2 separate regions of the Homo sapiens genome follow, and region 2 is reported to be linked to region 1. Evidence: microRNA targets listed by miRTarBase, many of them from high-throughput screens and not tested one by one. Region 1 holds a microRNA gene; the other region holds the end of a gene's coding sequence.
What was found. The annotated mature microRNA hsa-miR-7155-3p reads UGGCCCAAGACCUCAGACC and lies in region 1 at 1,384-1,402, opposite strand. An mRNA with a match to its seed (bases 2 to 7 or 8) in the 3' UTR can be bound and repressed. Matches are read on the target gene's strand: a 7mer-m8 pairs with bases 2 to 8, a 7mer-A1 pairs with bases 2 to 7 and ends in A, and an 8mer does both.

Region 2: the mRNA of TSPAN31 is a reported target of hsa-miR-7155-3p. The part of its 3' UTR that is shown has no 7-base or 8-base seed match.

The regions. Positions count from the first base shown.
Region 1 is chr11:64,340,466-64,343,855 of GRCh38, forward strand. MIR7155 (microRNA 7155) reads right to left here and starts at 1,439; the gene lies at 1,384-1,439. It overlaps CCDC88B (coiled-coil domain containing 88B), which reads left to right. Exons shown (of 27, transcript NM_032251.6): 2 at 142-287; 3 at 442-553; 4 at 644-713; 5 at 805-863; 6 at 956-1,039; 7 at 1,134-1,277; 8 at 1,529-1,674; 9 at 1,829-1,910; 10 at 2,057-2,215; 11 at 2,714-2,860; 12 at 3,042-3,150; 13 at 3,313-3,390. LOC102723878 (a long non-coding RNA gene) reads right to left here and starts at 327. Exons shown (of 4, transcript NR_188518.1): 1 at 76-327. RefSeq lists silencers at 278-357, 378-427, 2,292-2,586.
Region 2 is chr12:57,746,718-57,750,107 of GRCh38, reverse strand. TSPAN31 (tetraspanin 31) reads right to left here. Exons shown (of 6, transcript NM_005981.5): 4 at 3,388-3,390; 5 at 2,977-3,090; 6 at 1-2,892. The coding sequence ends at 2,818. CDK4 (cyclin dependent kinase 4) reads left to right here. Exons shown (of 8, transcript NM_000075.4): 6 at 604-654; 7 at 791-926; 8 at 1,491-2,381. The coding sequence ends at 1,583. It overlaps MIR6759 (microRNA 6759), which reads left to right and starts at 1,426; the gene lies at 1,426-1,490.

The sequences.
Region 1 (3,390 bases):
GTGTGGGGGGCTGTGGTGAGGGAAGAGGGGACAGAGGCACTCAGAGGACGGGTGAGAAGGGGTGCTTGGGCTCACTGGGGCAGGTCGGAGGGGCTCAGGGTTCACTCTGCTGGTCGGCTGACCCCTCTGGGCTCCTCACAGGCGCTGGGACTGGCCGGGCTGGTCGGGGAGGCGGAGGACTCGGAGGGGGAAGAAGAGGAAGAGGAGGAAGAGCCGCCCCTTTGGTTGGAGAAGAGATTCCTGCGCCTCAGCGATGGGGCCCTGCTCCTCCGGGTGCTGGGCATCATGTAAGGGGCATCGGGCCGGGGCGGTGGCGGGGAAGGATCTGAGAGGAGGGGAAGCGGGTGGGCGGAGCCTGATGCTCAGTGGGCGGGGCCTGAGGGACGGTGGGCGAGGCCTGTTGACGGGAGGCGGGTCCTCGAGCCCACCTCCGGCTCATAGTGCCCCCAGCTCCCGAGGGGGACCTCGGATGCTCAGAGGCCTTGACGGACCTGCTGCCTGGCGAGTGTGGAACCTGAACCACCTGTGGGGCCGACTGAGGGACTTCTACCAGGTAAGGGGTCTCGAGGGAAAGGCGGAGACAGGAGGGGAAGAGGAGCCCCTTCGGGAAGGCGCCTCATATAGTCTGCCTCTCTGCCTCCAGGAGGAGCTGCAGCTGCTGATCCTGTCGCCACCCCCAGACCTCCAGACATTGGGATTTGACCCTCTCTCAGGTGCTCTCCCCACCCACACCCTCCTGCCTCTGCCCCCGCACTACTCTACCTTCCCCGCCCCAGTTAACCCCTTGTGGCATGTGCCTTGCAGAAGAAGCGGTGGAGCAGCTGGAAGGCGTTCTTCGGCTACTGTTGGGAGCGTCAGTACAGGTGAGCCGGCGGTGGGAAGGAAAGGTTAGGGTCGAGCTTTGGCGGTAGAGGAGGGAGATCCTGCACCAGCTCCCCTTCCTGTCTCCCCTCAGTGTGAGCACCGGGAACTCTTCATCCGCCACATCCAGGGCCTCAGTCTCGAGGTCCAGAGCGAGCTGGCCGCTGCCATCCAGGAGGTACTGAGACGGTTCGGCAGCCCAGACTGGTATGGCACCTGGGACGCCCTTGCCACACCGCGGCTTCCACTGAACTGCTCTTCCTGCGCCCCAGGTGACCCAGCCGGGGGCCGGCGTGGTGCTGGCACTGTCTGGGCCAGATCCTGGGGAGCTGGCACCTGCCGAGCTGGAGATGCTGTCCCGGAGCCTGATGGGGACACTGTCGAAGCTGGCACGGGAGCGTGACCTGGGGGCCCAGGTAGGGGCAGCAGGGGCATCGTGGACTCAGGTTGGGGAACTGGAGGACCATCAGGGAGCCGGTTGTGCAAGGGAGATGGAAGTTTGGGGCCCAGGCATGGGGTTGTGGTCTGAGGTCTTGGGCCATCAGTGATGTCACAACCAGATGGCCCAAGACCCCAGACCACAACCCCATGTCTGGTGTTGTGGTTGGGGGTCGATGTGCAGAGGCATTGGATAAGTTAGTCCTGACCCTTGACCCCTGACCTACAGCGGCTGGCTGAACTGCTGCTGGAGCGAGAACCCCTCTGCTTGAGGCCTGAGGCTCCCTCTAGGGCTCCCGCCGAGGGCCCCTCGCACCATCTGGCCCTGCAGCTGGCCAACGCCAAGGCTCAGCTGCGGCGTCTGCGGCAGGAGCTGTGAGTGTGCGCAGCCTGGGAAGGGGACTGAGTGGAGAGGGGCAGATTAAGCCTGGATGGGACCCTAGCCCTGGTGGCTACGGGAGGGGTCAGGCCTGGGAAGGGCTGGGGGTTGTGGGCCCCCAGACCCTCCCTAGACTCCCCTTCCCTCCAGGGAGGAGAAGGCCGAGCTGCTGCTAGACTCCCAGGCCGAGGTGCAGGGTTTGGAGGCCGAAATAAGAAGGCTCCGCCAGGAGGTGCGCTCACATGCTCCCCGCCACCGCGGCATTCCCTAACCTCCCCGCACCCGGTCCCATTGCCTCCCTCCCAACCCGGCTCCTTCCCGTCCCTAATCCCTCTGGCCCGCGGCTGGCTGTTCCCAGCTCCACACCGTCTGGCCCAGGCCCAGGCGCTGTCGGGACAGGCCAAGCGGGCCGAGCTGTACCGCGAGGAGGCAGAGGCGCTGCGGGAGCGGGCCGGCCGCCTGCCCCGCCTGCAGGAGGAGCTGAGGCGCTGCCGCGAGCGGCTGCAGGCGGCTGAGGCCTACAAGAGTCAGCTGGAGGTGAGGCGGAGACGGAGCCGCGGGGCGGGGCGTGCGCGAGGGGGCGGGCCAGGAGGAGGGGCGAGATTGGGTCCCGAGGGCAGAGAGGCAGGTTCTCTGGAGGGGACAGTCACAGGTGGAGAAATGGGTGAGGACAAATTCAGGGAGGTGGCGTCTGGGAAAGGGCCTCCAGAGGATGGGGCAGGTGTAGGGGAGTGGGGGGGCTGTGTAAGTGATGCAGCCTTGGAAGGAGGGCTGTTCCCGGGGGGGAGGGGCGGGGCATGGACAGAAGGGCGGGGCCTGCACAAAGGGCGGGGCCAGGGGCGAGGGAGAAAGTACCTGAAGAGATCTTGGTGGGAAGAAGATGGAAGGGAGTGGCGGGGCCTAGAGACTGATGGGGTGCAGGGTGGGGGAGGGAGGCAGGGTCTGTGACAGGCTGAGGGGAAGGAGTTTGGGACCCTCAGGCGCTGGAGTGCATGGGGGCTGCGTGGCTACCGGTTCTCCCTGCTCTCCCACCAGGAGGAGCGGGTGCTCTCGGGGGTGCTGGAGGCGTCCAAGGCGCTGCTGGAAGAGCAGCTGGAGGCTGCCCGAGAGCGCTGCGCCCGGCTGCACGAGACCCAGCGCGAGAACCTGCTGCTGCGAACCCGGCTGGGCGAGGCCCATGCGGTAAGGTAGCCAGAGTGATCCCACTTGGGTTGCCCCGTCACCCCATGACCCCATTGATTCCCTAGTGGTCCCTAGTGATTCTTGCAACCTCTGCTCTTGGTGACCTCTAGTGACCCTCCGACCTACACACTCGGCCTGGCCATGGTGTGGAGGGCTTGTCTGACCCTTCCCTCACCCCCAGGAGCTGGACTCTCTGCGGCATCAGGTGGACCAGCTGGCTGAGGAGAATGTGGAGCTGGAGCTGGAGCTTCAGCGGAGCTTGGAGCCACCTCCAGGATCCCCTGGGGAGGGTGAGGGACCCCACTGGAAGGGCTGGGGTGGGGGCTTCCTATGCTTTCCAGCAGTGTACTGGGGAGAGCCTCTGACTCCCTCCCTTCTCCCAAGCCTCTGGGGTGTGTATGTGAGGAGCCAGGCAGTAAAGGAGGGGTCCTGACCTCATCTCTCATCCTCAGCACCCCTAGCAGGAGCGGCCCCCTCGCTGCAAGATGAGGTGAGGGAGGCAGAGGCTGGGCGGCTTCGGACCCTTGAGA
Region 2 (3,390 bases), not on the chromosome of region 1:
ATTACAGCTCACTGTAGCCTCTACCTCCTGGGCTAAAGCAATCCTCCCATCTCAGCCTCTTGAGTAGCTGAGACTACAGGTGCACGCCACCATGACTGGCTTTTTTTTTTTTTAGATGGAGTCTTGCTCTGTCGCCAGGCTGGAGTGCAGTAGTGCGATCTCTGCTCACTGCAACCTCCACCTCCCAGATTCAAGCAATTCTCTTGACTCAGCCTCCCAAGTAGCTGGGACCACAGGTGCACGCCACCATGCTCAGCTAATTTTTGTACTTTTAGTAATGACAGGGTTTCACCATGTTGGCCAGGATGGTCTCGATCTCTTGACCTCATGATCCACCCACATCAGACTCCCAAAGTGCTAGGATTACAGGCGTGAGCCGCTGCACCTGGCATTTCTTTTTTTTTAAAAAAAGAGACAAGGTCTTGCTTGCCCAGGCTGATCTAGAACTCCTGGGCTCAAGCAGTCCTCTCACCTCAGCATCCCAAAGTGCTGGAATTGTTGGCCTTTATTCCCTATACTTCCTATTTTGAGCCACTAAGCAGTAACCATTCAACTAAGATATCTTTGAAAATGACTGCTACCTTATATCCCTTCTCACCTTAGGCCTCTCTTCTGTGGAAACTCTGAAGCCGACCAGTTGGGCAAAATCTTTGAGTAAGTGACCAACATGGGAGAAAAAGATTTTCTATTCTGAGTCCTCTTTCTGCTGAACCCAGGATGGCAACTGGCTCTGCCCATGGGGATGGGAACTGGAGGACCCTCCTGACCAGAGTTCTCCTGTCCCCCACAGCCTGATTGGGCTGCCTCCAGAGGATGACTGGCCTCGAGATGTATCCCTGCCCCGTGGAGCCTTTCCCCCCAGAGGGCCCCGCCCAGTGCAGTCGGTGGTACCTGAGATGGAGGAGTCGGGAGCACAGCTGCTGCTGGTACTGGAGATGGCTGTGGGCACAGGGAAAGAAATAGAGACTGGGGAAAGAAATAGAGCAGTATGCAGGGCCCTGGCCACTGTGGTTAATGAAACTTGGTTGGTAGATGGGCTGTAGTTTTTATTACAGCTGCAAATAGCCACCCACAGAGAAGGATATAGAAGAGAACCCATCCTGGCTGGGCACGGTGGCTCACGCCTGTAATCCCAGCACTTTGGGAGGCCAAGGTGGGCGTATCACCTGAGGTCAGGAGTTCGAGACCAGCCTGGCCAACATGGTGAAACCTCGTCTCTACTAAAAGTACAAAAATAAGCCGGGGGTGGTGGCACACGCCTGTAATCTCAGCTACTTGGGAGGCTGAGATAGGAGAATCACTTCAACTCAGGAGGCGGAGGTTGCAGTGAGCTGAGATCATACCATTGCACTCCAGCCTGGGTGATAGAGCGAGACTCCGTCTCAAAAAAAAAAAAAAAGAAAAAAGAAGAAAGCTCATCCCAGGTATTGTTGTGGGTGGGCAGAAGTCTGTTTTCTTCATGGTTTTCTGACCTTTGCCTCTCCCCTCAGGAAATGCTGACTTTTAACCCACACAAGCGAATCTCTGCCTTTCGAGCTCTGCAGCACTCTTATCTACATAAGGATGAAGGTAATCCGGAGTGAGCAATGGAGTGGCTGCCATGGAAGGAAGAAAAGCTGCCATTTCCCTTCTGGACACTGAGAGGGCAATCTTTGCCTTTATCTCTGAGGCTATGGAGGGTCCTCCTCCATCTTTCTACAGAGATTACTTTGCTGCCTTAATGACATTCCCCTCCCACCTCTCCTTTTGAGGCTTCTCCTTCTCCTTCCCATTTCTCTACACTAAGGGGTATGTTCCCTCTTGTCCCTTTCCCTACCTTTATATTTGGGGTCCTTTTTTATACAGGAAAAACAAAACAAAGAAATAATGGTCTTTTTTTTTTTTTTAATGTTTCTTCCTCTGTTTGGCTTTGCCATTGTGCGATTTGGAAAAACCACTTGGAAGAAGGGACTTTCCTGCAAAACCTTAAAGACTGGTTAAATTACAGGGCCTAGGAAGTCAGTGGAGCCCCTTGACTGACAAAGCTTAGAAAGGAACTGAAATTGCTTCTTTGAATATGGATTTTAGGCGGGGCGTGGTGGCTCACGCCTATAATCCCAGCACGTTGGGAGGCCAACGCGGGTGGATCACCTGAGGTCAGGAGTTCGAGACCAGCCTGACTAACATGGTGAAACCCTGTCTCTACTAAAAATACAAAATTAGTCAGGCGTGGTGGTGCACACCTGTAATCCCAGCTACTTGGGAGACTGAGGCAGGAGGATCGCTTGAACCCGGGAGGCAGAGGTTGCGGTGAGCCGAGATCATGCCATTGCACTCCAGCCTGGGCAACAGAGCAAGACTCTGTGTCAAAAAAAAAAAAAGAATATAGATTTTTAAATGGCTTTTACTTTTATATTCGCTAAACTTTCTCAAACTGGATCCTGCTTATTACAGGAAAGAGTTCTTGGTTGTTTTCTCCTTGGCCCTATCCCTGATTTACCCTTAGAGCCACACCAGGGTATGTTGAGGTGATCCAGTATATGGACAGAGGAAGGGAAACAGCTAAGAATGACTCCAGCCCCCATCCTATGCACTCACAGAAGCTTCCCATATCCTCTTGGAGAGAGAGGAAGAAAGTTTTTCCTTTTATTCCTTATAGTCTGGCTCCCACTAAAATATGTCAAGGCATAAAGTCTTGCTATTCCATCAATTTTAGAGGATGTGACAAGGGGCCTTTCCTTTTTCTCAAACCAAAACGGTTACAGACCCTAGATATTCCCTAAGGGAGGAAGAGAAAGCTTAGAGAGAGCAGAAGAAAAGTCAGAAGGATCCAAAGTCTCATAGAAAGGCACTGGGGTTGGCTCTAGGATCCTTCTGATTCCGAAATCTCATTGCTAGCCAAACACCAAGGATCTGTAGGAACAAAGGGAGAGAGATAAGTATCAATTAATTCTCAGTCTCAAAAAGGATGTGTGTGAGGGAACTGGAGAATGTTACCTCTGTAAAGCTAAAGAAGAGTCCAACACCCCCTAGGATTTTCAGGGCTTCGTCTGAATGCTTAAGAAACTTTTCTCCACACATCTGGCATGTGGGGCTCTGGCTCTTGCAGATCTGAGGATAAAACGTGAAGAATGCAAAGTTGTGAATGTAAAGTTGCTAGTGACTAATACCTATGCCGAATGTCCCTAGAAACTTTACTGTTATCTGACCAGTGTCCTACAAACTAAAATCCTACTTGGCTAATTCCCCAGCCTCTATCCACCCCCACCTCCCACCAACACAGCCCCAATACAAGAGGGCTTGTAGAGAGAGAAACAATGACATTCAAACTAAATTTGCCAACTTGGGCATTGTCCTTACCCAGTTTCCTACCTCCCCTGGCTGCTGCACCACCCCCAACACACTCACTGC